3 separate regions of the Homo sapiens genome follow, and regions 1 and 2 are each linked to region 3. The links come from fine-mapping of genetic effects on gene expression. A gene starts in region 3. Each other region holds a variant in brackets. All regions are shown on one strand. Distances are between the middles of the regions. Region 1 holds the start of LOC124901841 (small nucleolar RNA U13). Region 2 overlaps PILRB (paired immunoglobin like type 2 receptor beta). Region 3 holds the start of PTCD1 (pentatricopeptide repeat domain 1).

Region 1 (8,174 bases), 23 kb before region 3:
ACTTGTTTTGCAGTTTAGATTTGGATGGGCCTATTGCAGTAATCACGGTCATTTTGGGCTGAGAGATGTCTTCCCGAAACAGCTCTTTATCAAAATAAAGGAAATGGGAGCATGCTGGAATAGAAGAGATTTTGCAAGTCCTTGAAAGTAAATTAACTTCATCTTCTAAAGGGTGACTTTTGAGGGAAGGAGGAACCCTACTTTGTGTTTAGATATTCTTTACCTCCAGACAGAAGTATTCTTTGTTCTGTTTTCTTTTTGTTTTTGTTTTGAGACAAGGTCTCACTTTGTTGCCCAGGCTGGAGTGCAGTGGTTCAATCACAGCTCACTGAAGCCTCCACCTCCCAGGCTCAGGTGTTCCTCCCACCTCAGTCTCCCAGGCAGCTGGGACTACAGGCATCCACTGCCACGCTTGGCTAAGTTTTCTTTTCTTTTTTTTCTTTTTTTTTTTTTTGAGACGGAGTCTCGCTCTGTCACCCAGGCTGGAGTGCAGTGGCGCGATCTCCGCTCACTGCAAGCTCCGCCTCCCAGGTCCACACCATTCTCCTGCCTCAGCCTCTGGAGTAGCTGGGACTACAGGCGCCCGCCACCATGCCCAGCTAATTTTTTTTTTTTTTTTGTATTTTTAGTAGAGACGGGGTTTCACCATGTTAGCCAGGATGGTCTCGATCGCCTGACCTTGTGATCCACCCGCCTCAGGCTCCCAAAGTGCTAGGATTACAAGCATGAGCCACCGCGCCCGACCAACGCTTGGCTAATTTTTTGTAGAGATGGGGGTGTGTTAGTCCATTTTCACGCTACTGATAGACATACCTGAGACTGGGCAATTTACGAAAGAACGAGATCTAATGGACTTACCGTTCCATGTGGTTGGAGAGGCCTCACCATCATGGCAGAGGCCAAGGAGGAGCAAGTCACGTCTTAACATGTGTACCTGCTGAATCTTTACTACCTGCTTTTCTGCTTGGATCACAGCATTCTGTTTGTTGAGCTGAATTGTAATTCCTAGGTAATAGAATGGCTTAAAAGCTGGAGACAGGGAGGGATAGTCTTCTTGACCACTCTTCGCCCTTCTGTTCTTCCCTAAAAACTGAGGAGGTCATAGACAAAGATGAACTTGTGACTGCTGAGAGAGAGAGAACTGCCTTGCGGCAAGTATGAGTGCCACCTGATCCTGCGTGTGTTGAAGGAGCAGCTTCTGCTGTGGCTACTTCCCTCAGAACCTGTAGACTGGTCTAGTTTATTTAGCTTTTCCTCAGCCCTAAAGGACTTTGGCTGGGAGATGAAATTAGAAGTGCCTTCAAGATGATTAGGATGCCCATCTGTGGGCCTAGAATTATCTTGATTAATTATTACGCTGTAGAAATAGATCTGAAAGCATAGGGACCAAGGTTGGTTTTTTGGCTTTTTTTTGTTTGTTTTGTTTTGTTTTTTTTTGAGACAGGGTCATCTGTCATCCAGGCTGGAGTGCAGTGGCACAATGTCAGCTAACTGCAACCTCTGCTTCCCAGGTTCAAGCACTTCTCGTGCCTCAGCCTCCCGAGTAACTGGGATTACAGGCATGTGCCACCATGCCCAGATAATTTTTGTATTTTCAGTAGAGACAGTGTTTTGCCCTGTTGGCCAGGGTGTTCTCGAACTCCTGACCTCAAGTGATCCACCCACCTCGGCCTCCAAAAGTGCTGGGATTACAGGCGTGAGCCACTGTGCCCAGCCGGGACCAACCTTTTAACAGAAGTTACCATTAAATGTCTTTAAAAATCTATGTTTTCTAATTCTGTAATTAAAAAGACTTTTTTTCTTGTCACATGGGTAATGTGCCAACGTTGTGACAAGGTTTGAGAGTGGCATGTCTCACACATGGATGTGAACACCCAAGCACACTCATGAATTACAAAAGGATCCAAAAATAGACATTTTTAATTTAAAACAATTATGTTTAAATTACTTAGCTTATTTTTTATTTTTTTATTTTTTTTTTTGAGACGGAATCTCACACTGTTGCCCACGCTGGAGTGCAGTGGTGCGATCTTGGCTCACTGCAACCTGTACCTCCCGAGTTCAGGCAATTCTCCTGCCTCAGCCTCTTGAGAAGCTGGGATTACAAGCGTGCACTACCACGCCCGGCTAATTTTTTAATTTTTAGTAGTGATGGGGTTTCACCACGTTGGTCAGGCTGATCTCGATCTCCTGACCTCGTGGTCCGCCCACCTTGGCCTCCCAAAATGCCCGGCGGCTTATTCTGTTTTTAAATAACAGCTTTATTGAGATATTAATCATATACTGTAAAAGTGAACCTGTTAAATTATCCAATTAAGGGGTTTTTAGTATATTCACAAAGTTGTACGACCATTGCCACAGTTAGTTTGATGTTTCAAGGTTCATCTGTGTTGTAGAATATATCAGTACTTACTTCATTCCCTTTTTTTTCTTTTTTTGAGACGGGAGTCTTGCTTTGTTGCCTAGGCTGGAGTGCAGTGGTGTGATCTCAGCTCACTGCATCCTCCGCCTCTGGGTTCAAACGATTCTCCCACCTCAGCCTCCCAAGTAGGTGGGATTACAGGCATGCGCCACCATGCCCTGCTAATTCTTTTGTATTTTTAGTAGAGATGGGGTTTCACCATGTTGACCAAGCTGGTCTCAGACTCCTGACCTCAAGTGACCTGCCCACCTCAGCCTCCCAAAGTGCTGGGATTACAGGTGTGAGCCACCGATTCCGGCCAGCCCTGTTTAACTTCTTGAGGAGCCACCTAACTCTTCTGCAGTGGCTCCACCATTTTACATTCCCACCAGGAACGTAGGAGAGTTCCAATTTCTCCACATCCTTCCCAACACTTGTTATTGTGCCATAATTTTGATTATAGTCATCTGTAGGGTCCAGCCCCACAGGGTCGGTGGGTTTCTCCCCGTGTGTGGAGACGAGAGAGCGTAGAAATAAAGACACAAGACAAAGAGATAAAAGACAGCTGAGCCTGGGAATCCCACCAAGACGCGGAGACCGGTAGTGGCCCCAAATGCCAGGCTGCACTGATATTTATTGGATACAAGACAAAGGGGCAGGATAAGCAGTGTGAACCATCTCCAATGATAGGTAAGGCCACATGGGTCACGTGTCCACTGGAAAGCGGGCCCTTGCCTGCCTGGCACCAAGGCAGAGAGAGAGAGACAGCTTATGCCATTATTTCTGCTTATCAGAGACTTTTAGTACTTTCACTAATTTGCTATTGTTATCTAAAAGGCAGAGCCAGGTGTACAGGATGGAACATGAAGGCGGACTAGGAGCGTGACCACCAAAGCACAGCATCACAGGGAGATAGTTAGGCCTCTGGATAACTGCGGGCGGGCCTGACTGATGTCAGGCCCTCCACAAGAGGTGGAGGAGTAGAGTCTTCTCTAAACTCCCCCGGGGAAAGGGAGATTCCCTTTCCCGGTCTGCTAAGTAGCGGGTGTTTTTCCTTGACACTAACGCTACTGCTAGACCAAGGTCCGCTTGGCAACGGGCATCTTCCCAGATGCTGGCGTTACCGCTAGACCAAGGAGCCCTCTGGTGGCCCTGTCCGGGCATAACAGAAGGCTTGCACTCGTTTTCTGGTCAGTTCTCACTATGTCCCCTCAGCTCCCATCTCTGTATAGCCTGGTGTTTCCTAGGTTATGATTGTCGAGTGAGGATTATTATAATATTGGAATAAAGAGTAATTGCTACAAACTAAGGATTAATGATATTCATATATAATCATATCTAAGATCTATATCTAGTATAACTATTCTTATTTTATTTATTTTATTATACTAGAACAGCTCGTGCCCTCGGTTTCTTGCCTCGGCACCTGGGTGGCTTGCCACCCACAGCCATCCTAGTGGGTATAAAGTGGTATTTATTCATTATCAGTAGTTACTTACAAAAAGAAAATCCTGCGCAGACCGACCCTATTCCCCCAAACACACTCTTTGTTTCTCCCCAGCTGAAACAGAACCGCATGAGGGAAAGAGGAAAGTGGAATCTCTGTGGCCCATCTTCAGGATCCACCACCAGAAAACCCGCTACATCTTCGACCTCTTTTACAAGCGGAAAGCCATCAGCAGAGGTAATTAGTCAGTCTCTCTTGGACTTTGAAGCTCGCGTCACTTTTGGAGTTACTGAACTAACCACAATCCTTATTCTCGCAACCTGTGCAAGTCATGGTTTTTCTTACCACGAAAATTAGGGGGAGCCAACGTTGGCTGAGTTTTGTGTGTGTGTTTGTTTTTTGTTTGTTTGTTTTGAGATGGAGTCTCACTCTGTCACCCAGGCTGGAGTGCAGTGGCGCAATCTTGGCTCACTGCAAGCTCCACTTCCTGGGTTCAAGCGATTCTCCTGTCTCAGCTCCCAAGTAGCTGGGATTACAGGCACCTGCCACCACACCTGGCCAATTTTTGTATTTTTAGTAAAGATGGGGTTTCACCATATTGGTCAGGCTGATCTTGAACTCCTGACCTCAGGTGATTCACCCGACTCGGTCTCCCAAAGTGCTGGAATTATAGGCGTGGTCCACCGCTCTTGGCTTTTTTTTTTTTTTTTTTTTTGAAACAGGGTCTTGCTCTGTTCCACAGGCTGGAGTGCAGTGGTGCAATGATGGCTCACTGCAGCCTCAACCTTCTGGGCTCAAGGGATCCTCTCACCTCAACCTCCTGAGTAGCTGTGACTACAGGTGTGCACCACCACACCCAGCTAATTTTTAAATTTTTTGTGGAGATGGGCCCTTGGCCCAGGCTGGTTTCTTAACTCAAATGATCCTCTGGCGTTGGCTTCCAAAAGTGCTGGGATTACAGGTGTGAGGCACCTTGCCTGGCCTAAGTACTTTTTTTTTTTGTTCCTCCTCCAAGGACTGTCCCGTTGCAATACTGAATGCCTTTTTTTTTTTGAGATGGAGTTTCGCTGTCACCCAGGCTGGAGTCCAGTGGCACGACCTCAGGTCACTACAACCTCCG[C/A]CTCCTGGGTTCAAGTGATTCTCCTGCCTCAGCCTCCTAAGTAGCTGGGATTACAGCTGCTACCACGCCCGAGTAATTTTTGTATTTTTAGTAGAGACGGGGTTTTACCATGTTGGCCGGGCTGGTCCTGAACTCCTGACCTCAGGTGATCCGCCTGCCTCGGCCTCCCAAAGTGCTGGGATTACAGGTGTGAGCCACTGCACCCGGCCTGAATGCTTTTTTTGATCAAGGGTGGGGAAGGTTTTTAGACCATGGCCTGATGCTCTTTCCCCATCTTTTTGACAGAACTCTATGAATATTGTATTAAAGAAGGCTATGCAGACAAAAACCTGATTGCAAAATGGAAAAAGCAAGGATATGAGAACTTGTGCTGCCTGCGGTGCATTCAGACACGGGACACCAACTTCGGGACGAACTGCATCTGCCGCGTGCCCAAAAGCAAGCTGGAAGTGGTAATGTCTGACACTCAAGCTTGGTGTTGTTTTCAGCTCAAAATTCTGCCTTAGTCGACTGCAAGGGATCTTATGTTATTTGGTTGGGCTGGAATGTCGTTTTGTCCCTGGATGTCCTGCTGGCTCTCCCTCGTGGGAGTGGGTCCCTGTATTCAGGAATCCATGTGAGGCAGCGTGTGGCTGTGTGTTTGTTAGGTCTGGGGTCAATCTCAACTCCACTTTTGGGCAAATTACTGAACCCCTTTCCTCACTTAGGAAATGGTGGTGGGGAGCCCTAATCCCAAGGTGGTGGCAGGGTGACATCAGGGAAGGACAACCAGTGAGTTCCTGTCCCTTTCAGTCCTCACAGTGATACTTTAACATTACCATCACTATCTTTCCCGCCCCCCCAAGACGGAGTCTTGCTTTGTCGCCCAGGCTGGAGTGCAGTGATGCCATCTTGGCTCACTGCAACCTCCACCTCCCGGGTTCAAGCGGTTCTCCTGCCTCATCCTCCTGAGTAGCTGGGACTACAGGCATGCACCACCACGCCTGGCTAATTTTGTATTTTTAGTAGAGACGGGGTTTCTCAATGTTGCTCAGGCTGGTCTCGAACTCCCGACCTCAGGTGATCCACCCGCCTCAGCCTCCCAAAGTGCCGGGATTACAGGCATGAGCTACTGCGCCCAGCCCACTGTGTTTCTTCTTTCAGAACTTTCTGTTCCAAGTACCACTCCTAGGCCAGGCGCCTCAGGAGTGGTGCTGAGGGACAGGAGCTGAGCTCCATCCGGTTCCAAGCCCCTCTGAAAGGCAGCTGTGGCCCGAGGCAGAGTCACAGCAGTGGCCGCTCAGTGCAGCCCCTCAGCACAGTTGTTGGCCCCACCGCCCATCTGCCAGCCTGGCCTTCTTTTCCCCAGCTCCACACAGGGGCCTCTTCACATGAGTCCCCTTTATGCTGCAGTGAGACTGACAATGGAGAGCTGTGGCTGGATGCTGAGGACTTGGGTACTGAGCAGTGGGGGCGAGCAAGGGCCGCCTCCCCGACGGAAGACTGGGGTGTTGGTTTTCTGATGGAGGCAGGGACAGGTGGCAGAGTGGCAGAAGCCCCCTTCCTCTGAGTGCCCAGATTCCACAAGGAGTCCAGGTCAGGGGCTGGTGGGCTGGGGTGCTGCTTCAGCCCTGTGGCCAAAACAGCCCGCTGTAGACTTACCTGGGTTTCACCAGAGGATCCTGTTTACTTAAACTATGGTCTTGTTCTTCCAAAAAAAGAACTTGAAAAAGTAAAATAAACACAAGCCACTGTTCTAGGGCTTTCTGGCTGGCCAAGTGTTGGGCCGCACCAGGCCTGGGGGACAAGACCCTTCTTTCTGGGGGGCTCTGGGCCAGAAGGGTGTGACTCAAGTGCATAGTCTCCTGCCCTCTTCCCCCACCAGAGTGTACCAGCCCAGAGGCCCCCCTGAAGTCCCCAAACAGTAGCAGAGCCACGTCTGCTCATCGCAGGGTCTGTCATGCTCACTTAGCAGAATAACGAGACTCATTCACACCGATTTCTTTTTCTTGATTGGCAAACGTGTGTTGGATTTGCAGAACATATTATAAATAGACATACAGATGTAACCTCGGTGTCAACAGCAGCTGGTTCTACCTTCATGAGGGAGCCAAATTTTCCCTGTCCAGAGCTGTCAAGGAAGGGTTTCTGAGGTGTGTCCCTATATGGCATGGTGGCAGGTCCTTCGTGGGAGGGTTGCCACATATGTGAGTGTGCAGGGGCGAGCGTGGCGCAGTGGCATCGTCTCACTGTCCTCCTCCGTTGCAGGGCCGCATCATCGAGTGCACACACTGTGGCTGTCGTGGCTGCTCTGGCTGAGGCTGGCGCGCTCCACCCTGGACTCTGGACTTCGCAGGTTCCTGCCTGTCACGCCACCCCCTTCCTGGGAGCAGCGAGCAGTGCCCCAGGCCCGAGTTGGAGCACGGTCTCTATGGGGAAGGCTTCGCTGTCTATCAGCTGTGATTTGTAAAAATAAAATCTTTAAATCTCTCGAGCCCCACGTCTCTTCTTTCAGAGCATCGGCCTATGGAACCCGGCGGGGCGGCCCAGGCCCCAGGGACCAGATGCCCCAGCCCCCTTGTGGTGTGTGAGGTGACACACAAAGGTAGCTGGAGCTGGAAGTCCCGTGAAGGTGACACGCAAAGGTGGCTGGAGCTGCACTTGGACCTGCTGGGAGCACAGGCACCTTGGGCCTAGTGTGTGTCCTCACCAACACCTGTGACACGCTGCGGCTGTTCCTCAGGGCCTGGCTCTTCCCCCAGGCAGGAGGTGACACCAGCTCACTTGTCCTGGGGCTCCCACAGAGCACTGGGGGCCGAGCACATTGTTCCAGCTGTGCTCCCATCACCTGCCCCCAAGGGCACATCCGTCATCAGCCTCCTTGCCGGTGTCCTGGTCCCCCTGGGGCTTGGTCCGGAACTTCTGCCAGGGGTGCGGGGTTTCCTCTGCGGGCATCACTGTCAGCCACTGCTTGTAATAGGCTCGGAAGCCGTCAATCTTCTCCAGGTAGGTGTTCTTCCCTTGGTACTAGAATTAGAAAAGTGAGGCTAGAATCACTCCTGTTACCTACAGCTAATCCCAAACCTCGGCAGCTGGCTCAGGCCTCAGGGAAGCTGGTGGCTGCCATTTTCCCTTCCAGGTGGCTGCAGAGGACAGGGCAGAAAAGCTGTGAACACGCACTATGGGACTAGCTTACTTCAGAGAAACAGGTCCCCGCTGGGTACCCT
Region 2 (8,169 bases), 930 kb after region 3:
AAAATTAGCCAGGCGTGGTGGCGCATGTCTGTAATCCCAGCTAATCGGGAGGCTGAGGCAGGAGAATCACTTGAACCCGGGAGGCAGAGGTTGCAGTCAGCCAAGATCACGCCATTGCATTCCAGCCTGGGCAACAAGAGTGAAACTCCATCTCAAAAAAAAAAAAAAAGACATAAATAGAGCAGTGGAATAGAATACAGAGCCCACAAATAAACCCTCACATAGATAGTCAAATGATCCTCAACAAGGGTGCCAAGATGACCACTCGACGAAGAATAGTTTCTTCAACAAATGGTGTTGAGAAAGCTGGGTACTCACATGCAAAACATAAAGGTGCATCTCTGCCAAAAAATTAACTCAAAATGGATTAAAGACTTCAATGTAAGACCCAAAACTGTCCAGTGTCTAGAAGAAAATACAGGAGAAAACATAGGGTGATGAGACAAGATGGTGGGTCCTTGCACCATCATCCCCAGACCCATGGTTTTTATTCCACAGGGGAAGGATGGTTTGTATTCTACAGGTGAAGTATGATCACATCAAGGTTGTTTGACTCCAGGGCAGGATTTATGATACGTACCTGCTCTTACACAAGAACGATAGATCAACTGGAAATCTTAGAGGCCTTCCCAGAACTGGGGTTAATCAGAAGCTGCCATGGCAGATTAGCTTCCAAGATGGAGTTGCCTTAGCCTCCACAATATTAAAAGTAGAACTACCATATGATCCAACAATCTCACTTCTGGGCATCTATCCAACCAATTGAAAGCAGGGTCAGGAAGAGGTGTTTGCACACCGATGTTTGTAGTAGCATTACTCAAAATACCCCAAACGTAGAATCAACTGAAATGTCCATCAAACAAAATACGGTGTCTGTAGTCCAAGCTACTCGGGAAGCTGAGGTTAGGAGAATGACCTGAGCCCAGGAGGTTGAGGGTGTAGTGAACTATGATTGTGCCACTGCACTCCATCCTGGGTGACAGTATAAGATCCTGTCTATTAAAAAAAAAAAGTTCTGAAAAAAATAATATTATTGAATCTTTTTTATTTAGTTATTTATTTTGAGACAAAGTCCTGCTTTGTCACCCAGGCTGGAGTGCAGCAGTGCAATCTCAGTTCACTGCAACCTCCGCCTCCTGGGTTCAAGGGATTCTCTTGGCTCAGCCTCCCGAGTAGCTGGGATCACAGGTGTGTGCCACCACACCCAGCTACTTCTTGCATTTTTAGTAGAGACGGGGTTTCACCATGTTGGCCAGGCTGGTCTCGAACTCCTGACCTCAGGGGATCCACCCACCTCGGCCTTCCAAAGTGCTAGGATTATAGGCGTGAGCCACTATGCTTGGCCTCAACCTTTAAAGGGAAGGAAATTCTTACACATGCTGTAGTATAAATGAGCCTTGAGGACATTATGCTAAGTGAAATAAGCTAGTCACAAAAAGATAAATACTGTCTGATTCCACTTACATGGTATCTAGAGTAGCCAGATTCCTAGAAACAGGAAGCAGAAAGGTGGTTGTCAGGGGCACAGAGGAGATGAGAATGGAGAGTTAATATTTAAAGAACATAGAATTTCAGTTTTACTGGCCCAGTGTGGTGGCTCACGCCTGTGAGGAACATGCCTTGGAAGGCTGAGGTAGGTGGATCACTTGAGGCCTGGAGTTCGAGCCCAGCCTGGCCAACATGGCGAAACCCTGTCTCTACTAAAAATACAAAAAATAAGCTGGTGTGGCGGGGGCACCTGTAATCCCATCTGCTCGGGAACCTAAGGCAGGAGAATCACTGGAACCCAGGAGATGGAGGTTGCAGTGAGCTGAGATCACGTCACTGTATAGCAGCCTGGGTGACACAGCAAGACTCTGTCTCAAAAAAAGAACTTTTGGGTTTCAGTTTCGCAAGATGAAAATGTTCTGGAGATCTGTCTCACAACCATGTGAATACACTTAACACTGCCAAACTGTACACTAAGCAATGGTTAGGATGGTAAATTCTAGGTGGTTTTTTTTTTTTTTTTTTTTTTTAGACAGAGTCTCGCTTTGTCACCCAGGCTGGAGTGCAGTGGTGCGATCTTGGCTCACTACAACCTCCACCTCCCAGGGTCAAGCAATTCTTCTGCATCAGCCTCCTGAGTAGCTGGGAGTACAGGCACATGCCACCACGCCCGGCTAATTTTTGTAATTTTAGTAGAGACAGGTTTTCACCATATTGTTCAGGCTGATCTCGAACTCCTGACCTCAGGTGATCTGCCCACCTTGGCCTCCCAATCCTGGGATTATCACCGCGTGAGCCACCGCACCCACCTTAGGTGTTAGGCTGGAAGGAGTGAAAGTTGCAATATGAAAATGATACTAGCAGTTAATATTTCAGAGTTCCCAGTCCCAACATTAAAAAACAAAAAACCTGTAGAAGTGGAAGGGGAGGTCCCTGGAGTTGAGGGGTGCCGTGAGGCCTGGGTTCAGAGGGTGTCTCTGTGGACGTGGAGCCCTCCCAGGAGGGGGCTGGATGGTGGAGGGGATGTCTGTGGACCAGGAGCCCAGTGCTTGGGAAACACTGCAAGGATGCCAGGGGGACAAGAGGGGCAGGGCACAGTGGGAGAGGCAGCAGAGGATTCAGGGTGAGACCAGCCAGAGGGGAGGGGAGGCCTAGAGGTGGCAACAGAACTTGAACAGCCACAAACATGAGTCCCAAGCATGAGGCTCCCAAGGCTGGAGGGCAGACACAGCCGCCACCCAGAAGGAAACCACAGGCGCGGTCTCCCTGAGGACCTGGAGGGAGAGGTGGGGGTGCCTATGTCAAGGGAAGGGGAGGGAAGGAAGAGATGGGTGGGCGAGGGCTCAGCGATAGAGGGAGCCAGGTTGGGGCTGAGCAGAGAGCTCAAGAGCGAAGGAAGCCAACAGAGGGTAGCAAGGTTTTGCGGGGGCGGTTTCAGGAGATGACGTGGTGGACAACAGGGAGAACAGGTCGGGGGGGAGCCTCAGGGTGCCAGCTGAGTCCCAGGCCCTTCCTGATGGGTTTGGGCAGAGCTGATCTGCTGCTCTGGTCCCTCTAAGGAGGGCCTCAGCCTAGGGCGCAGCAGAGAAGGTGGGATGGAGACTGCTATCACCTGGATGCCACCCTGACTCACTGTTGGTCCCCCTACACGTCAGCAGCGGACTAAAGCCACAACCCCAGCCAGCTGAGTGCTGGGCCTCCCCAAGGGAGTGGGGAGTACAGGTGCGGGCAGGGGACGGGTTTGGAAATCAGGGACTGTGCTGCTAAGAACCCCACAAGCCCAGCCTGCCACAAATTCTCCTGAGTTTTTGCCACCTCCCACTTAAATCTGATCTCTGAAG[C/T]AACTGCCTCGCCTGCCTCACTAATAATCCTGGCCCTGCATCTAAAAACACTTCCCCTCCTGCAGGTAGCAGGGCGCCAAGCAGTGACTTCTGACCAACAGAGTGTGGGGAGAAGGGATGTGTATTAGCCCCGGAGGACGTGATGTGAGACCCGCTTGTGAGTCCTCCACACTCGTTCCCCATTGGCAAGATACATGGAGAGCACCCTGAGGACCTTTAAAAGGCAAAGCCGCAAGGCAGAAGGAGGCTGGGTCCCTGAATCACCGACTGGAGGAGAGTTACCTACAAGAGCCTTCATCCAGGAGCATCCACACTGCAATGATATAGGAATGAGGTCTGAACTCCACTGAATTAAACCACTGGCATTTGGGGGCTGTTTATTATAGCAGTGCAAAGAGTTCCTTTATCCTCCCCAAGGATGGAAAAATACAATTTATTTTGCTTACCATACACCCCTTTTCTCCTCGTCCACATTTTCCAATCTGTATGGTGGCTGTCTTCTATGGCAGAAGGTTTTGGGGAATAAATAGCGTGAAATGCTGCTGACACTTCCCTGTGCATCTCCCACATGGCTGCCAAGTGCCCCTTCCTGCTCTGCAGTACCTGAGTCCAGTCATGATGCAGGGAGCCTCCCCACTAGAAACAGATGGCACTCACAGATTTAAAGCAGTTGGAAGCAAGTTTAAGAAGGGAAATCTTTTTTTTTTTTTTTTTTTTTTTTTGAGACAGAGCCTCACTCTCATCACCCAGGCTGGAGTGCAGTGGCGCAATCTCTGCTCACTGCAACCTCTGCCTCCTGGGTTCAAGCCATTCTCATGCCTCAGCCTCCCAAGTAGTTGGGATTACAGGCGTGCACCCCCACACTCAGCTAATGTTTGTATTTTTTAGTGGTACTGGAGTTTCACCAAGTTGTCCAGGCTGGTCTCAAACTCCTGGGCTCAAGCAATCCTCCAGCCTCAGTCTCCCAAATAGCTGCAATTACAGGCGTGAGCCACCATGCCTGGCTGAGAGGGAATCGTTAAGAAGGAGTGGGCAGGGGCAAGAACACTGTCAGAGACAGTGTGTTGGCCACGGCTACTACAGCAAATTGGCTGCTTCCTGTGATCGCACGGGTTGAGGGCTCAGTTCCACAAGGCTGCCCCAGCATCAGATGCCAGTCGCAAGCTCACGTGGTGCCTGTGCTTCTGACACAGGGCTATAAAAATTGAGGTTCCCATGATCCCCTCCTTGGGTTCAATTAATTTTCTAGAATGGTACCTAGAACTCAGGGAAGCCCTTTACTTACATGTGTCCCCTTATAAAGGATATTATAGGGCCTGGCGCCATGGCTCATGCCTGTAATCTCTGTGCTTCAGGAGGTTGAGGGGGGAGGTTCACTTGAGCACAGGAGTTTGAGACCAACCTGGGCAACATAGCGAGACCCCGTCTCAAAATAAAGATATAGGATATTACAAAGGATAGTTATGAACAGCCAGATATAAGAGATACACAGAGGGAGGCCTGGGGGAAGGGGTGCAAAGCTTCCGTGTCTTCTCTAGGCACTGCACCCTCTAGGAAGCTCCATGAGTTCAGTTATCCAGAAGCCCTCTGCATCCCTTTTGGGTTTTTATGGGCTTCATTATAAAGGCATGATTGGGCCAGGCACAGTGGCTCATGACTGTAATCCCAGCACATTTTGAGGCTGAGGTGGGAGAATCAATTGAGCCCTCAGGTGGCAACTGAGGCTGCAGTGAGTTGTGATTGCACCACTGTACTCCAGCCTGGGTGACAGAGAGAGAGCCTGTCTCAAAAAAAAAAGACAAAACAAAAAACCTGGCCAATACGGTGAAACCCCATCTCTACTGAAAATGATCGTCACCTGATCCCCACCCCTTGAAGATGCCTCCACCCTCTCCATACGCATTTGGTCAGCACTAACTGCCCTGGGTGACAGGCACACTGCACTGGGTGACAAGGACCCAAAGCTACACCAGCCAGTGCCCCAGCCCTCAAGCACCTCCCTGTGCAGAAGGAAGACAACACAGAAAAGGGAAGCATGGTTGTCACAGAGGCCCAGAGGACTGCTGGCTGATGTCACTGAATGGGGAAGTGGTTGGCCGCACAGGCCCCAAGCTCAGACCTGATGCCACAGTGGACGTTCCTGGGCCATGTGACCTCAGGCTAGGCTCAGAACCACCCTCAGGGCCTCCGTTTCTTTCTGTATAAATTGAGGACCATACAGAGATGCTGCCTACCTCCTGGGATTGTCCAGAGAGTTAAAAGCTCTTTTAAAATGCGCCTGCTGGGCCAGGCACAGTGTCTCACACCTGTAATCCCAGCACTTTGGGAGGCTGAGGCAGGCAGATCACAAGGTCAGGAGGTCGAGACCAGCCTGAACAACATAGCAAAGCTCCATCTCTACTAAAAATACAAAAAGTAGCCGGGCGGGCATGGTGGCACGTGCCTGTAATCCCAGCTACTCAGGAGGCTGAGGCAGGAGAATCACTTGAACTCAGGAAGTGGAAGTTGCAGTGAGCCGAGATTGTACCATTGCACTCCAGCCTGGGTGACAGAGCGAGACTCCGTCTCAAAAAATAAAAATAAATCAAATGCACCTGCTGGCAGGGCGCGGTGGTTCATGCCTGTAATCTCAGCAACTTTGGGAGGCCTAGGCAGGTGGATCACCTGAGGTAAGGAGTTCAAGACCAGCCTGGCCAACATGGTGAAACCCCATCTCTGCTAAAACTACAAAAATTAGGTGAGCATAGTGGTGGGCACCTGTAGTCCCAGTTACTCGGGAGGCTGAGGCAGGAGAATCGCTTGAACCTGGGAGGCAGAGGTTGCAGTGAGCCGAGATGGTGCCACTGCACTGCAGCCTGGGCGACAGAGTGAGACTCCGTCTCAAAATAATAATAATAATAAAACAAAATGCACCTGCCATTTCTTTCCATCAGGTATGGCCATGGAAATGAGGGTCATAAGGGAAGCAGTGTATCCTCACAGATCCCCAGAAACGAGAGACACAGCCATGCAGGGCCACTTGGGAAAGCACCAGGGTCCCTCAGGGAGTAGAGGAAGCCAAGGGAACACAGGGGTGAGACCCTTTGTTATGCTTTCCCTGGAAAAGGCAAGGAAGGGTATGCAGGTTTAGGATTGGCTAGTTAGAATAACGTTAGCAGGCTCTGGGGATTAGAGGCTGTCATTTGTTATTTGGTGTCTGGCCCAGGATGATGAAGGCAGAGAAATACTGCCTTCTGAAGGGTGAGAGGCAGCTAGAAGAGCTGGTTCAGTGTTGGGGCCCTGGATTAGCTGGTTTGCATATGAAAGGCACACTCAGCCAGGAGCCGTGGCTCAAGCCTGTAATCCCAGCACTTTGGGAGGCCGAGGTGGGCAGATCACAAGGTCAGGAGATGGAGACCATCTTGGCCAACGTGGTGAAACCCCGTCTCTATTAAAAATACAAAAATTAGTTGGGCATGGTGGCACGCACTTGTAATCCCAGCAACTTGGGAGGCTGAGGCAGGAGAATCGCTTGAACCCAGGGGTGGAGGTTGCAGTGAGCCGAGACCGTGCCACTGCACTCCAGCCTGGCAGCAGAGTGAGACTGTTTCAGAAAAAAAAAGGGACACTCTCAGAGGGGTCATTTGCTAGCTCTAACAACTGGCTGGCTCTGGCAGGGGCAGTCCCTCTCTCTGCTCTTGGAGGTCCAAGATGCCAGAATATCAGCAATCCAGTGGGGCTTGGTGAGGTGGCTCACACCTGTCATCCCAGCACTGAGGGAGGCCGAGGCAGGAGGATTGCTTAAGCCCAGGAACTTGAGACCAGCCTAGACAACATAGTGAGACCCCATCTCTCAAAAAAAAAAAAAAATTAGCCGTGTGTGGTGGTGTGTGCCTGTGGTCTTCACTACTTGGGAGGCTGAGGTCAGCAAATTGCTTCAGCCCAGGAGTGATGGTGATCGCGTCCCTACACTCCAGTCTGTGGACACTCTAGTACCTTGAGGACAGTACAGCCTGATTACAGAAGCTTTACAGCAAGTCTTGAAGTCAGGTATTATAAATCTTCCACCTTCATTCTTCATTTGTAAAGGCCTTTTGGCTATTCTAGGTCCTTTGAATTACTGTGAGAATATTACAGTTGGCTTGTGAACTCCACAAAGCCTATGGGATGTCGATTGGGATCAGAGGAAAGCAGGAACGGTGGGTGCCAAGGAGAGGTGAGGGGCTGGGGGCAGGGACGGATGTGGCCAGTGAGGACAGTAGGATACTTGTTGGGGGAATGTGGGGACATCCAAGCAGTGGTTCTCATAATGCGGTGCAGGGTACTTACCCCCTCCCTGCCCCTGCTCCCCACACACGACTTCCCACGCCTCTCCCATGAGCACCTGCACTAAGGGGCTGCATTTAGGCTCTGCCCACATTGGAATCATGCCCTCCTCCAGGCCCTCCTCCTCCTCTCAGAAGCCCTGTCTGTGAGAGAGCCACAGCCCCAGGCTCAGTCCCAGGTTCTGTCACTGCTGTTGGGGGAGGGAGGATGAACAAATCCAGGAGACCTCACACCATCCCAGAGCAGAAATCCTGACACAGAAGGAATCTCCCATGGGGGTTCAGCTGGATCCAGGGCCTGAAAGTGACATAAACATGCATGTTGCATCTAAGGAGACTGCACGTGGCAGCATTGGGCAGCATGTGCCCTCCAGAGCTACCCAGAGGCTGTTGGCTATAAGTTCTATGTGGCCCCCACATTGGACAGCCTGGTAAGCAGGTGACCTTTCAGCCAGGTCCTCAGGTGGGGCGGGCCACCCTCTCGAGGCCCTGCCCAGACAGCCAGGGGGTCCCTTGTCCTCTCTGCAGCCCATCTT
Region 3 (8,174 bases):
GATGAACAGTCCCATGGGGCGGGCCCTGGCGAACAGTCGAGCGAGTCTCACGAAGTCCATTTCTGGCTTTCCTGTCCCTCCAGGGCCTGGAATATATCAGGAAAAATAAGAGAGTCAACTCAGTTCCTAGTAACAAAAGGCAGAAAGAAAGAAGTGGTTACAAGTATGGGCCCAGGCCAGGCGCGGTGGCTCATGCCTGTAATCCCAGCACTTTGGGAGGTCGAGGCTGGCATATCACTTGAGGTCAGGAGTTTGAGACCAGCCTGGACAACATGGTGAAACCCCGTCTCTATGAAAAATACAAAAATTAGCCAGGCTTGGTGCTGTGCGCCTGTAATCCCAGCTACTCAGGAGGCTGAGGCAGGAGAATCACCTGAACCTGGGAGATGGAGCTTGCAGTGAGCTGAGATTGCGCCACCATACTCCAACCTGGGTGACAGAGTGAGACTCTGTCTCGAAAAAAAAAAGAAAAGAAAGAAAGAAAAAGAACAGGCCAGGGGCGGTGGCTCATGCCTGCACTCCCAGCACTTTGGGAGGCCGAGGCGGGCAGATCAGTTCAAGACCAGCCTGGCGACACCCCATCTCTACTAAAAATACAAAAAACATGAGCTGGGTGTGGTGCTACACGTCTAATCCCAGCTACTGAGGAGACTGAGGTAGGAGAATCGCTTGAACCCAGGAGACGGAGCTTGCAGTGAGCTGAGATCGCGCCACTGCACTCCAGCCTGAGTGACAGTGAGACTCTGTCTCAGAAAAAAAAAAAAATAATAATAATAAATAAAATAAGAAGTATGGGCCCAGAGGTTAGAAAGCCTAGGTTCAGGTCAGACATAGCTCACTGCAGCCCCACCCTCCTGTGCTCAAGCGATCCTCCCATTTCAGCCTCCCGAGTAGCTGGAACTACAGGTGTGAGCCACTATGCCTGGCTAATTTTATTTTTTGGTAGAGACAGGGTCTTGCTATGTGCCCAGGCTGGTCTTGAACTCCTGGACTCAAGCAATCCTCTCGCCTCGACCTCCCAAAGCACTGGGATTACAGCAATGAGCCACCATGCCCAGCCTAAAGTATTTTAGAGTCTGGTTATATTAGAAGGTTGCGATTGGAAAAGTCTTACAAGTGATGGCAGATTGAACAGATTAAAAACTAGGCCCAGTAGGTCAGGAGCGGTGGCTCACGCCTGTAATCCCAGCACTTTGGGAGGCCAAGGTGGGTGGATCCCCTCAGGTCAGGAGTTCGAGACCAGCCTGACGTGGTGAACCCTATCTCTGCCGAAAATATAAAAATTAGCTGGGCGTGACAGCGTGCCCCTGTAATCCCAGCTACTTGGGAGGCTGAGGCAGGAGAATCACTTGAACGTGGGAGGCAGAGGTTGCAGTGAGCCAAGATCGCGCCATTGCACTCCAGCCTGAGCGACAGAGCAAGACTCCATCTCAAAACAACAACAACAACAACAAACAAAAAACTAGGCCCAGCAAGGGGAGAGACTTGCTGGGGTCCTGCAGCAGTGCAGTGGGTGAGACTGGCCAGCTTGGGCTGGGCTGGCTTTGAACTCAGGTCCATGTAACGCATTGATGATTGTCCTGACCAGCACCTTTTGTGAAACTAGTGCAGGGGGCCTTTATCATTCTGCATCTGGCAAGCCCTGCCACTCCTTCTTACAAGCATGGTGTTTATGTAATTTTCTTTTTTGTGGAATGGGGTCTTCATGTTGCCCAGGCTGGAGTGCGATGGCACAGTGGAGTGCAAATGCACAATCACTGCAACCTCCAACTCCTGGGCTCAAGTGATCCTCCTACCTCAGCCTCTCAATTAACTAGCACTACTGGTGCACACCACCATACCTGTCTAATTTTTTGTATTTTTTTGTAGAGATGGAGTCTCCCTATGTTGCCAGGCTGGTCTAGAACTCCTGGCCTCAAGCAATCCTCCAGCCTTGGCCTCCCAAAGTGTTGGGATTGCAGGCGTAAGCCTCCATGCCCTGCCTTACGTGCATTAATTACAATACACAGAATTACAAAACAAAAAGCAATGATATTGAAATGGCATCAAAATGCTTTAAAAACAAATTTCTGCTATACTAGTATAGATGCTTATTTTCAATGCATGAAATAACAAGACCCTATCATAATTTCTTTTCTTTTCTTTTTTTTTTTTTGAGACAGTCTCTCACTCTGTCCTCAGGCGTGACCTCGGCTCACTGCAATTTCCGCCTCCCGGATTCAAGCGATTCTCCTGCCTCAGCCTCCCCTGGAGCTGGGACTACAGACGCATGCCACCAAGCCCAGCTAATTTTTGTATTTTTAGTAGAGACAGGGTTTCACCATGTTGGCCAGGATGGTCTGGATCTTTTGACCTTGTGATCCGCCCGCCTCGGCCTCCCGAAGTGCTGGGATTACAGCCGTGAGCCACCGCGCCCGGCCGACTCTATCATAATTTCAAAGCAGTAATAAATGTAAGTGACAGCTTAAGATACCACCTTGTAGTTGCTGCACAAACTGGGTTTTTTTGCGTCTCACTCTGTCACCAGGCTGGAGTGGGGTGGTACAATCTCGGCTCAATGCAACCTCTGCCTCCCGGGTTTAAGCCATGCTCATGCCTCAGCCTCCCAAGTAGCTGGGATTACAGGAACGCGCCACTACTCCAGGCCAATTTTTATATTTTCAGTAGGGACGGGGTTTTGCCATCCTGTCCAGGCTGGTCTCGAACTCCTGACCTCACGTGATCCTCTCGCCTCAGACTCCCAAAGTGCTGAGGTTACAGGTGTGAGCCACCATGCCTGGCCCTGCACAAACTGTTATCTGGAACTATCATTTACACTCACCCTCACAGTTTCAGGCACTGCTAAGGCTGCTCCAGCAATCAGGAAAGGAAATGCTATACTTCACATAGAGAAAAATAGGGGTGCATTTTGTTCCTACACAAGCTCATTACCCCACCCTGGTTAAAAAAAACCCTGAATTAGGCTGTATAGTGGCTCATGCCTGCAATTCCAGCACTTTGGGAGGCCCAGGCAGGAGGATCGCTTTGGGCTTGGGGCCAGGAGTTCGAGACCAGCCTGGGCAACATAGCAAGACCCGCCACCCGCCCCCCCAACCCCGCCGTCTCTACAAAAATTAAAAATAAAATTTTAAAAATTAGCCAAGTGTGGTGGTGCAGCGTCTGTAGTTCCAGCTACTCGGGAGGCTGAGGTGGGAGGATCGCTTGAGTCTGAGAAGTTGACTGCAGTGAGCTATGATCGTACCCCTGTACTCCAGCCTGGGCCACAGAGCGAGAAAAAACCCTGAATTAGAGACACGCTGCGGCCGTCCTTCCTCGGAGAGACCCGCCCCTCCTCAGAGGCCCACCCGGACCCTCAGGCCAACGCCGACCCCTCTCCACACGGACTTCTGCAGCCTCAGTTTCCCTCCTCAGACGCCCCCGGCTCCAATCCCGGCTCGGGCACTTCCTTCCCCTCTGGCGTGTCTTGGCCCGGGTCCCGGGGCTCCTGCGAGGATCACACAGGAACTCACTTGAAGTGTCCGGCGCAGTGCACTCCGACGGGGAGCCCTGCCCGGTCCCCGCGGCGAACCAGTCTCTTCCTCGGGTCCCCCTCTCCCCAAGCGCGCAGGCGCAATCCGCGTCGCCGACTCACGCGGCTGGTTTCAGGTTTCTGGCGAGGCCGGTGTTCGGCTGGCGGCTAGCTGGGACTAGCGGAACGGCGGAGTCTCGATTGGCAGTGCCTGGACAGGCGCAAGGGCCGGCGCGGGCTCCGGGCGCTCCCGGCATCCCTCGGGCGGCGGCGGCGGCGGCGGCGAGGCGAAGCGAAGGAGGAGTGTGTGCGGCGGGGCCGGCGGCGGGTAAAGGCGAGAAGGCTGCAGGAGACCGAGGGGGAGCCGGGCCGGTGGGGCCGCCGCCGCCGCCATGCAGGAAATCATCGCCAGCGTGGACCACATCAAGTTTGACTTGGAGATCGCGGTGGAGCAGCAGCTGGGGGCGCAGCCGCTGCCCTTCCCCGGCATGGACAGTGAGCGCGGGGCCCGGGCGGGAGGGCAAGAGCGACTCGAACCCGGGACCCGCTCCTCTGTGATCCCGGGACTCCCTCGCCTCGGTCCTGAGACCTCCCCCGGCTTCCTCTGGATCCTGGGACCCCTCCCCTTTGGTCGCAGGACTCCTCCCTCTAGGTCTTGAGAGTCCCTCCCACCTCCTCCGGGTCCTGGGATCCTCCCCTTTAGTTACCGAACTCCCTCATCTGTGGTCCCGAGACTCTTCCCACTCCATCCTGAGACCTCCTCTTCTGGATCCCGGGACGCTCCCCTTGGTTTCAGGACTCCTGACTCCCAGGCCCCCATTTCCACCGTCTGGGGACTCCTTTTACCCTCACTCGGACTCAGGAGTTCACTGCCTCGGATCTTTGGCCCTCTGCGGCTGTTCAAAGGTAATCTGTAGGAGGGTAGACCTTGTCTGTTCGCTTAATTCTTGAATAAGGGTGGGTTATCCTGGATTGGAACTCTCCCTCAACACTCTCCCAACTGCAGGAGAGTACTAGGATATCACACCCGCTACGTTGAGCGTCTCTTCTTGATTTCATCAAAACTAGGCGGTTGGAGGAGATGTGCTGAGGGAAGGACCACCTTTCTGTAGGAGACCCCAGCTAGACTCTCAAACTCCCTTCTAGGACTCACTCTCCTGGGAGCTCATCCCTAGTTTTTGGCCCGTCCCTACTTTTTTCTGGACCCCAACTCTGAGTTATTCATCACACCCAGCAGCTGGTGTGGACCCTTGGCCTGAACTCCCTTCACTGCTCCCCTTCATATGGTGGCTCCTGGCTTCCCACCTCCTACTCGGTGGGATATCTTGTACTTTAAAAGAAACCAGTAGTTTTCTTTGTGTCTTCTTTCCTATCTGGACATACTTGAAATCTAATGCTATAACCTTAAAGTTTGGGGGCTTGTGGAAGTCACTGAGTTCAATCCACAGATGGGGAAACTGAGACCCAAGCGGGGGAAGGGACTTGCTGACAATCACTCAGTGCATAGCAGAGGCGGGCAAGCTCTCCAGTGTTGTGTGCTGTCGCCCACAACTACCAGCGGGGTCTCCCACCGCTCCCAGCAGCCTCACTCCCCTCAGGCGGTCACACCTTCTCATGCACATGTGACCTCTGAGTCTGTCCCTTTATGTGTTTTTGTTGTTGTTGTTTGTTTGCTTTTGAGACAGGGGCCCCTCTGTCGCCCAGGCTGGGTGCAGTGACGCAATCATGGCTCAATGCAGCCTCGACTTCCCAGGCTCCAGCAATCCTCCCACCTCAGTCTCCCAAGTAGCTGGGACCACAGGCATGCACCAACACGCCTGGCAAATTTTTTTGTGTGTATTTCTTGGTAGAGACACTATTTCATCATGTTTCCCAGGGTTGGTCTTGAACTCCTGGGCTCAAGTGATCCTTTTACCTCGGCCTTCGGAAGTACTGGGATTATAGGCATGAGCCACTGCACCTGGCATATATATATATATATATATTTTTTTTTTTTTTTTTTTCCTGCCTGTCCCACAACTTTACATGGTGATAGTTCTGTACAAGATAGTTTCATTGGAAATTAATTAAGTCTTCAAGAAGACAAGATAGTGCTTATAAGGAGACATCATCAGACCACCCTATTTGACACAGGCACAAACACCATCACCACTGTACACTCCCTAAAAAGCAGCTGCTCAAATTCACACACACACACCCCCTCTTACCTACCCCTCGACTCTTGTGATCATCCCTGCACATGTGGCCTTTTCCTGTCTTTTTTTTTTTTTTTTTTTTGAGACAGAGTTTTGCTTTTGTCACCCAGGCTGGAGTGCAATGGTGCGATCTCGGCTCACTGCAACCTCCACCTCCCAGGTTCAAGCAGTTCTGCTGCCTTGGCCTCCTGAGTAGCTGGGATTATAGGCGCCCACCACCACGCCCAACTAATTTTTGTATTTTTAGTAGAGATGAGGTTTCACCATGTTGGCCAGGCTGGTCTTGAACTCCTGACCTTAAATGATCCACCTGCCTCGGCCTCCCAAAGTGCTGGGATTACGGGCATAAGCCACTGTGCCCAGCCGGCCTTTTCCTGTCTTGATGGCACTAGCTTGAGACCATGGAACCACCCACGCAGGGCAGCTCTTTTCCTCCCACCCTTCTGCCATCTGACACATCCACAAGCCTGTGAGGGGAGGTACAGTGGCGAGGGGCCCACATACCTGTTCCTGAGGCCCGGGACACACCTAGCCATGGGTGTTGCTCCAGCCAGGGCTTCAGAGTCGGTAGGCACCCTCCACACTCGCTGCTTGTCCATATCCTGTTCAGTTAAAGCCTAGTGAGGCCACAGCCCTTCCTCACCCATCCCTCCTCTTCATCCCCATCTGAGTTTTGGGAAGAACTGTCACTTTGCCCATAAGGCATACTCATCCTATCCACATGAGACTCAGTTCCCAGAACTGTGTATTTCTGAGCAGAAGCAACTCTAACCTCTAAAGAGAGAGACCAGAAGTACTTTCAGAATTTTTTTTTTCTTTTTTTTTGAGACAGAGTCTTGCTCTGTTACCCAGGCTGGAGCACAGTGACGCGATCTTGGCTCACTGCAACCTCTGCCTCTGGGTTCAAGTGATTCTCCTGCCTCAGCCTCCCAGGTAGCTGGGATTACAGGCACGTGCCACCATGTCTGACTAATTTTTGCATTTTTAGTAGAGATGGGGTTTCACCATATTGGCCAGGCTGGTCTTGAACTCCTGATGTCAAGTGATCCACCCGCCTCAGCCTCCCAAAGTGCTAGGATTACAGACGTGAGTCACCGCACCTGGCCACTTTCAGACTTTTTGAGATGCAAATGGAGTGACCTCCCTGTGACAGCCATAAGTTCTATAACCTCAGCTGTGTCCTAGCAAAATCTGCTTGCTTCCAAGAAGCCAAGGAATCTTTTGTGATTTAGCAAGGGGAGGCATGTTAAGTGGGCTTCAGAGATGCTGTCATTGGTTTTTCAGCAATTCTAAAATGGTTACTTGTAGAGGAAACTGTTTCTGATGCCAAGGTCAGTTTAGTCTGGCAGCTGGGGCTGGTGAATTCCTGGACTCATCAGAACAGCTGGTCCCTGGAGCCCACTGAATTCCAGCACACTCCGACTGTGGGAATGAAAGGCTGTGCTTTTTTTTTCTTTTCTTTTCTTTTTTATTAACAAGCAACATAATCGGCCGGGCGTTGTGGCTCACACCTGTAATCCCAGCACTTTGGGAGGCCGAGGCGGGCGGATCACGAGGTCAGGAGATCGAGACCATCCTGGCTAACACGGTGAAACCCCGTCTCTACTAAAAATACAAAAAATTAGCTGGGCAAGGTGGCGGGTGCCTGTAGTCCCAGCTACTCGGGAGGCTGAGGCAGGAGAATGGTGTGAACCCCGGTGGGGCAGAGCCTGCAGTGAGCCGAGATCACACCACTGCACTCCAGCCTGGGCAACAGCGAGACTCCGTCTCAAAAAAAAAAAAAAAAAAAACAAAAAACAAGCAATATAATCAAAAACAAAAACACAACAACCTTAAAGCTGAAACAGCAATAAGTCAAACTGCCGCGGCAGTTCACAGTTTTACCTGGGGTACCTGCTCCCTCATTGCAAGGCAAGACTGCATTTAGTATATATGTGACCAAGAAGAATGAGAGAAGTGGAAAACACTGGAGAACAGAAAGTATCAAGAACCTTTCATCAGGCAATGCCAAAGCGCTCTGCTCTTTTCCTCTTCTTTGCCTCTGTATCCTCTGTGGTTCCAGTTCCAGCTGAACTTGTGACAATCCCAAATCGCTCCTTCCTCTTTTTCAGTTTCTTATCATCTTCAGACTTTCTGGAAATTGAAGAGACATTCAAACCAAATCTTTGAGCTCTTTCCTTCGGCTTATCCAAGTTAACCATAGGTGTGTTCAGATGACAGACTTTTGTTGGAACTGAAGAAATCCCAAACCTAGCTGCCTGAGCAGCTTTCTTACTCTCCAAGCTCACAGGTACACTGAATTGTTCGGCCCTCTTCTGCATTCTCTCAGCCTGTGGTATTTCAGATGTAATTTTCACCACTTTCTTCTCTGCTGCCACATCAACAGTTTTTTTCAGGGGGTTCTTCCTATTTGACAAGGGGTTTTTTTCTTCTTCTGTTTCATCTCCTAGTACATCTTCATTTGCCTCCTC

Evidence for each region. PIP is the estimated chance that this variant, and not a neighbour inherited with it, causes the effect.
Region 1: its variant is fine-mapped to the expression of PTCD1 in whole blood (INTERVAL, PIP above 0.99).
Region 2: its variant is fine-mapped to the expression of PTCD1 in whole blood (TOPMed, PIP 0.90).

Annotation. Positions count from the first base shown.
Region 1 is chr7:99,412,176-99,420,349 of GRCh38, forward strand. It overlaps BUD31 (BUD31 spliceosome associated protein), which reads left to right. Exons shown (of 6, transcript NM_003910.4): 4 at 3,963-4,085; 5 at 5,254-5,420; 6 at 7,216-7,441. The coding sequence ends at 7,266. ATP5MF-PTCD1 (ATP5MF-PTCD1 readthrough) reads right to left here. Exons shown (of 9, transcript NM_001198879.2): 9 at 4,564-7,974. The coding sequence ends at 7,792. PTCD1 (pentatricopeptide repeat domain 1) reads right to left here. Exons shown (of 8, transcript NM_015545.4): 8 at 4,564-7,974. The coding sequence ends at 7,792. It overlaps LOC124901707 (a long non-coding RNA gene), which reads left to right. Exons shown (of 2, transcript XR_007060451.1): 2 at 14-120. It also overlaps LOC124901841. RefSeq lists a silencer at 3,458-3,507. The variant C/A (reference allele first, on the strand shown) is at 4,969.
Region 2 is chr7:100,363,955-100,372,123 of GRCh38, forward strand. PILRB (paired immunoglobin like type 2 receptor beta) reads left to right here. Exons shown (of 4, transcript NM_178238.4): 4 at 3,395-3,877. The coding sequence ends at 3,423. It overlaps STAG3L5P-PVRIG2P-PILRB (STAG3L5P-PVRIG2P-PILRB readthrough), which reads left to right. Exons shown (of 17, transcript NR_036570.1): 17 at 3,395-3,877. It also overlaps a transcript of PILRA not described here. Among named protein-coding and RNA genes, the nearest start is that of PILRA, 5.4 kb to the right of the region's middle. RefSeq lists enhancers at 1,601-1,760, 1,791-1,840, 1,861-1,910, 2,761-2,840, 6,450-7,201. The variant C/T (reference allele first, on the strand shown) is at 3,330.
Region 3 is chr7:99,435,183-99,443,356 of GRCh38, forward strand. PTCD1 (pentatricopeptide repeat domain 1) reads right to left here and starts at 3,616. Exons shown (of 8, transcript NM_015545.4): 1 at 3,510-3,616; 2 at 1-86. The coding sequence starts at 60. It overlaps ATP5MF-PTCD1 (ATP5MF-PTCD1 readthrough), which reads right to left. Exons shown (of 9, transcript NM_001198879.2): 3 at 1-86. It overlaps CPSF4 (cleavage and polyadenylation specific factor 4), which reads left to right and starts at 3,761. Exons shown (of 8, transcript NM_006693.4): 1 at 3,761-4,003. The coding sequence starts at 3,901. It also overlaps the pseudogene LOC100131859. RefSeq lists silencers at 110-257, 3,756-4,055 and enhancers at 1,384-1,909, 3,206-3,495.